Linked DNA regions of Homo sapiens: region 2 is linked to region 1. Evidence: fine-mapped QTL for protein levels in blood plasma. Region 1 holds a variant in brackets. A gene starts in the other region. All regions are shown on their forward strands.

Region 1 (4,492 bases):
CTGAGCAGTGCACTTACAGTAGCAAGAGAAAAAGGTGGGATTTTAGACAGGAAGACTCCACTGACCTCAATAATGGCATCATAAAATGCTATCTGGCCACATGTTGTCATACCTTGAATGTAGCTGCAAAGCCAATGGAAAGATTTTAGATGTTACTGGAACAGAAGATGTTAATTAGGATAAATCTTCCAAAATGTTCAGAACATAATGTTAGCTTAATGTTTTACTTTAATAATGTTAGCTTGTGTTAAATTTATGATTTTTGTTTGTTTGTTTTTTGAGATAGAGTCTTATTCTATTGCCCAAGCTGGGGTGCAGTCACACAATCACAGGGACTTGCAATGTTGCCCAGGCTGGTCTCAAACTCCTGGCCTCAAGTGATCCTCCTGCCTCAGCCTCCCAAAGTTCTGGGATTGCAGCTGTGAGCCACCACGCCCAGTTTACGATTTATTTTTAAGAGCCCCTTGCATACTTTATAGACATTGGGACCTACCTAGGATATTCTCGTTATTTTTGTGCACGTAATAGAACTTAGAGCATATTGTTACTATTTTCGATTGTCCTAAAAACTTACAAGGAATTCATTCTTATGGCATTGCTGATTATTTCTATGTTCATTTGATATAAAAGAGTGTTAGTAGGGGCAGAACCCTCAATTGTACATAATATCAATGATAAAATACAATTCATTTAACAATTACCCTCTTAAGATGTGGTTTCTAGAAATACAAATTGTCCCTAACTTACAGTTTTCCAACTTTACAATTGGGCTGTAACACCATTTTAAGTTGAGAAGCACGTGATGGTTTGACTTAAAACTTTTTGACATTATGATGGGTTTTGGGGGTATTAAGTGCATTTTGACTTACAGTATTTTTGACTTATGAAGAATTTATTGTAAGGCAAGGGGCAGGTATATGTTTCTAGAAGCACCTAGAAGTGTTAGACACTTTCAATGTAAGAGAAGGATGAGATAAACAAGGAAATCAACCTCCACCTTGGAGGCTTATTACAGCTTCATAAACATACTCATAAATATAAGAAGCACAAAAGTCAAAAATTCCCTGTGAACTTGCAACTTTCACTCTCTTGAAGGTGGGTGGGCCGCTACCACCAAGAATATCTCCTGAAATAGGGCCTACAATCATAAATGCACAGGACTATATCCTTGGGTGATTCTACTCTAACACCACATCTCACCTATTTTAGACATGCCAAATGAAACACTCTTTGTGAATTTCTGCCGAGATACAATCTTGGTGTCTCTTTTTTACCCAGATGTGGACCAGCTAGTGAAGTGCTCCCACGAGCGCTCCATTCATCTCTTCATCGACTCTCTGTTGAATGAAGAAAATCCAAGTAAGGCCTACAGGTGCAGTTCCAAGGAAGCCTTTGAGAAAGGGCTCTGCTTGAGTTGTAGAAAGAACCGCTGCAACAATCTGGGCTATGAGATCA[A/G]TAAAGTCAGAGCCAAAAGAAGCAGCAAAATGTACCTGAAGACTCGTTCTCAGATGCCCTACAAAGGTAGGCTGGAGACTGTTGTAAATAAGGAAACCAAGGAGTCCTATTTCATCATGCTCACTGCATCACATGTACTGATTCTGTCCATTGGAACAGAGATGATGACTGGTGTTACTAAACCCTGAGCCCTGGTGTTTCTGTTGATAGGGGGTTGCATTGATCCATTTGTCTGAGGCTTCTAATTCCCATTGTCAGCAAGGTCCCAGTGCTCAGTGTGGGATTTGCAGCCTTGCTCGCTGCCCTCCCCTGTAAATGTGGCCATTAGCATGGGCTAGGCTATCAGCACAGAGCTCAGAGCTCATTTGGAACCATCCACCTCGGGTCAACAAACTATAACCCTTGTGCCAAATCCAGCCTACTTCCTGCTTTTGTAAATAGTTTTTTTAAAACTTTTAAGTTCAGGGGTACGTATGTAGGTTTGCTAAAAAGGTAAACTTGTGACATGGGAGTTTGTTGTCCAGAATATTCCATCACCCAGGTATTAAGCTTAGTACCCATTAGTTACTTTTCCTGAAGCTCTCCCTCCTCCCACCCTCTGGGAGGCCCCAGTGTCTGTTGTTCCCCTCTATGTGCTCATGCAAAGTTTTATTAGGACACAGCCACACACATTCATTACCATATTGTCAAAGGCTGGTTTCATGCCACCATAACAGAGTTGATAGCCCACAGAGCCTAAAATATTTACTCCCTGGCCCTTTACAGAATGTTCACAACTTACATAAAGGCAAGGACCATCTGTCTTATTTATTTATTTATTTAATTTGAGATGAAGTCTAGCTTTCTCCTAGGCTGGAGGAGAGGGGCATGATCTTGGCTCACCACAACCTCTGCCTCCCGGGTTCAAATGATTCCCCTGCCTCAGCCTCCGGAGTAGCTGGGATAACAGGCATGCACCATCATGCCCAGCTAATTTTTGTATTTTTAGTAGAGAGGGGGTTTCACCGTGTTGACCAGGCTGGTCTCGAACTGCTGACCTCAGGTGATCTGCCCTCCTTGGCCTCATCTGTCTTTTTAAATGCAACTATTCCTGGAAGGCAAGAATATCTCACACCTTCTAAGATACTGCCATTTTGCCAGGAGTTTGTTTCACACTTGAATTTCAAGCTTGGCCTCTTGTTTAGAGGCAGACCTAAAGGAATGGTCGGAAAATGAGAGAGGAGGTCTTCGGATAAATCCGGTGAGAGGGACCAACTTCAGGAAGGGTGGCTTTTGTGGAATCCAGATGGAAACCTGAGGGAAGGGATGATATTAAAGAACAGTGGCCCCAGGTAAAACATATGGCACCCATGTGTAAGGTGATTCTTAGAATCTGTAGAGGTGTCTTTCGTGGTATAGAGGTTGAGGCACCTGTGCTTCAAGGAAACCTTAACTCTTCAAAATCAGGCAATGCGTATGAGGTAAAGAGAGGACTGTGGGACCATAATCTTGAAGACACAGACAGGCTTCACTCATCCCTGCCTCCTGCACCAGTGGGTTCAAGGCTCTGTCAGTGTCCCCTAGGGGCACCTCACCACTCCCAGCTTCTTCAGCTCTGGCCTGTCCTGCTGCCTGCAAGGGTTTTGCTTAATTCTCAATTCAATGTCTCTTCATCTTTTAGCAGCTGTGGGGTTTTGTTGTTGTTCTTCTGTTTTTGCTTAGTATCTGACTACTTTTTAATTATAAAAAGAGATGTATCTAAACAAAATAGAGATTGTTATCAGAAGTTCACAACATTTATTAAAAATTTTTTCACCTGGACAAGAGTCTAAAGCAGCATAAAAATATGGTCTGCTATATTCTAAACCATCAGTCTTAAGAGATCTGTGTCTCAGCTTAAGAGAAAATACATTTAATAGACAGTAACACAAATAAGAAAAAAATCTGACCAAGGATAGTGGGATATAGAAGAAAAAACATTCCAAGAATTATTTTATTTATTTATTTATTTATTTATTTATTTATTTATTTATTTATTTTTGAGACACAGTCTCGCTCAGTTACCCAGGCTGGAGTGCAGCGGCGCAATCTTAGCTCACTGCAACCTCTGCTTTCCGGTTCAAGCGATTCTCCTGCCTCAGCCTCCTGAGTAACTGGGATTACAGGCACCCGCCACCACGCCCAACTAATTTCTGTATTTTTCTTAGTAGAAACAGGGTTTCACCATGTTGGCCAAGCTAGTCTCAAACTCCTGACCTCAGGTGATTCACCCACCAAGGCCTCCCAAAGTGCTGGGATTACAGGCATGAGCCACCATGCCTGGCCTCCAAGAACTCTTTTTTCCTCCATCATCATGGTTCTATTTTAGTCCTGCTGCCTTTCCTTTTAACCTCTCCCCAGGCCCATTTGCTCAGGGTTTTTGGTAGAGACCAGAGGAGGGGCAGGGAGGAGATATAGAAGTTCAACTACCTGCTTCCAGAGGCTGTCCCTAGTATAGAATACTTTAGGGGCTGGCTTTACAAGGCAGTCCTTGTGGCCTCACTGATGGCTCAATGAAATAAGTTCTTTTTTAAAAAAAATTTTATTTATTTCCATAGGTTATTGGGGGAACAGGTGGTGTTTGGTTACATGAGTAAGTTCTTTAGTAGTGATTTGTGAGATTTTGGTGTGCCCATTACGGAATGGAAAAATCAACGAAATAAGTTCTATGATGCACCTACTAGACACCTAATCTGCGCTAGATGGTGGGGGAATTAAGAGCATGGGCATGATCCTGTGACCGGAAGCCCGCTTACAGTCAGGGTGGAGGACAGACCTACTCATGAAACAAACACAGTGACATATAGTGACACAGAAGCAAATGTCAAATATGCTTGCTCCAGATGCTAAGGCACAAGATGGCCAAGGATGGCGGAGTTCATGGAGAAAGCATCATGAGTGTTTTGGCCTTCTGATTTGATCTCCCTAGCACCCCTCAAAGATGGCTACTTCCTAATGCTGCTTGGCAATTCAGACACATTTGGGTTTTTCCTATGCATATAACCACACTTTTCTGAAA
Region 2 (2,207 bases), not on the chromosome of region 1:
GTATATGGGGAAACTGCACACACCCAGAGAAGAAATGAAGGACACTACTGCATCCAACAAGAATAAATGAAAAAAAAAAAAAACCTATACATATAAGTGCAGAGGCAATAAGGAATAAAGGAATAATCACAGTGCAGAGGAGATTCAGACTGGCCCTAGAAATTAGGAAGAGATGTGTTGGCAGTGAACAGATGATATCCAGTGGGGGAGAGGGTGTTAGGGAGCAAAAGTGCTAAATGATGACTCAACCCAATCATCTAGCTCTTCCAATTCACCTGGCTTCTCTCCCCAAACCAGAAAATAAAACCCAAGTCCTACCCCCTGAACCACTTCTCTCCTCCCCCTCTCCCTCTCCTAGGCTGGACCGGGATCTCCATGGCTCAGGAGGGACATAGCACAGGACTGGATAAAAGGCCTTAGAACCAGTTAGTGATCTGCCTACACCTGAATCCCTGAAACATCTGAACTGTTTTGTAAATCATCTTATCCCCAACCTCAGTACCACCGGATCTTCACTTCTCAGTGGGATTTTGTCCTTTGCATGACCCTACTTTCAGCAGGGCTTTGAGGCTGGGAAACTGATCTGCTGGGTGACTTTCATTCCAGTTGCTGGGACGGAAGGCTGAATGTAGGGTCATTTTGTATGGGATATGCAGAGCTCTGGGTTTTTTTGTTTTTTGTTTTTTGAGACGGAGTCTCGCTCTGTCGCCAGGCTGGAGTGCAGTGGTGCGATCTCGGCTCACTGCAACCTCCGCCTCCCGGTTCAAGCCATTCTTCTGCCTCAGCCTCAGCGAGTAGCTGAGACTACCGGCGCACGCCACCACGCCCAGCTAATTGTTTTGTATTTTTAGTAGAGACGGGGTTTCACCATGTTGGCCAGGATGGTCTCGATCTCTTGACCTCGTGATCTGCCCGCCTCGGCCTCCCAAAGTGCCGAGATTACAGGTGTGAGCCACCGCGCTCGGCCAGAGCTCTGGGTTTTAATCCTACTTTAGCTGTAGAACCTTGGGCAAATAACTTCATCTTTTTGGGTCCTAATTTTCCTCCTGTCTAACTGGAGGGACTGTGATCCTTCCACCTTGGATGGAAGAGGCTTACCTGACAGCCAGCCTGCCTGCTGGGAGCCAGGAGAGTCAGCTCATTAAATCTTGAAGAACCGCTGTATGCCCTTTTTCCTTCTAAGTCATGTCTGCTGCCTGTGAGCCTGGGAAGGAGTGCTTTCAAAACCTGTATTTTTGCCCTCTTTAGTAAATTTAGAACTGTAGAGGCTAATAAACTGCGATGAGACATTTAAGCTCTGCTCCAAAGAAGTGAACGACTCTTTCACCACCCCTTGCATCCCAAACCTTCGGTTCTGGCAGAGTTCTTGCCGCAGAGGTTCCTTAGGAGCACCCCGCGCGGCCCGCGCGAGCGCGCCTGCGCGTCGAACCCCACCCCCTTCCCCGCGGGCCTCGGTTCAAACGACCCGGTGGGTCTACAGCGGAAGGGAGGGAGCGAAGGTAGGAGGCAGGGCTTGCCTCACTGGCCACCCTCCCAACCCCAAGAGCCCAGCCCCATGGTCCCCGCCGCCGGCGCGCTGCTGTGGGTCCTGCTGCTGAATCTGGGTCCCCGGGCGGCGGGGGCCCAAGGCCTGACCCAGACTCCGACCGAAATGCAGCGGGTCAGTTTACGCTTTGGGGGCCCCATGACCCGCAGCTACCGGAGCACCGCCCGGACTGGTCTTCCCCGGAAGACAAGGATAATCCTAGAGGACGAGAATGATGCCATGGCCGACGCCGACCGCCTGGCTGGACCAGCGGCTGCCGAGCTCTTGGCCGCCACGGTGTCCACCGGCTTTAGCCGGTCGTCCGCCATTAACGAGGAGGATGGGTCTTCAGAAGAGGGGGTTGTGATTAATGCCGGAAAGGATAGCACCAGCAGAGAGCTTCCCAGTGCGACTCCCAATACAGCGGGGAGTTCCAGCACGAGGTTTATAGCCAATAGTCAGGAGCCTGAAATCAGGCTGACTTCAAGCCTGCCGCGCTCCCCCGGGAGGTCTACTGAGGACCTGCCAGGCTCGCAGGCCACCCTGAGCCAGTGGTCCACACCTGGGTCTACCCCGAGCCGGTGGCCGTCACCCTCACCCACAGCCATGCCATCTCCTGAGGATCTGCGGCTGGTGCTGATGCCCTGGGGCCCGTGGCACTGCCACTGCAAGTCGGGCACCA

Which allele goes with the higher level. Alleles are on the strand shown, and positions count from the first base shown. The strength of an association depends on the size of the effect and on how common the allele is.
With allele A in place of G in region 1, the plasma level of the protein whose gene starts at base 1,459 in region 2 is higher (weak association).

Evidence for each region. A credible set is the group of variants that fine-mapping cannot tell apart. PIP is the chance, under the fine-mapping model, that this variant and not a neighbour inherited with it causes the effect. Protein levels are from antibody-based Olink assays in UK Biobank. Linkage for the fine-mapping came from a reference panel and not from the study's own genotypes, which makes the PIPs less certain.
Region 2: C1orf56 starts here. The variant in region 1 is the best candidate, but not a certain one, in a credible set for the plasma level of the C1orf56 protein (UK Biobank, PIP 0.80).

What each region holds. Positions count from the first base shown.
Region 1 is chr8:19,954,563-19,959,054 of GRCh38, forward strand. LPL (lipoprotein lipase) reads left to right here. Exons shown (of 10, transcript NM_000237.3): 6 at 1,279-1,521. Among named protein-coding and RNA genes, the nearest start is that of LPL, 18 kb to the left of the region's middle. The variant A/G (reference allele first, on the strand shown) is at 1,456.
Region 2 is chr1:151,046,293-151,048,499 of GRCh38, forward strand. C1orf56 (chromosome 1 open reading frame 56) reads left to right here and starts at 1,459. Exons shown (of 2, transcript NM_017860.5): 1 at 1,459-2,207. The coding sequence starts at 1,556. It overlaps BNIPL (BCL2 interacting protein like), which reads left to right. Exons shown (of 10, transcript NM_138278.4): 10 at 359-1,428. The coding sequence ends at 395. RefSeq lists enhancers at 1,787-1,836, 2,117-2,207.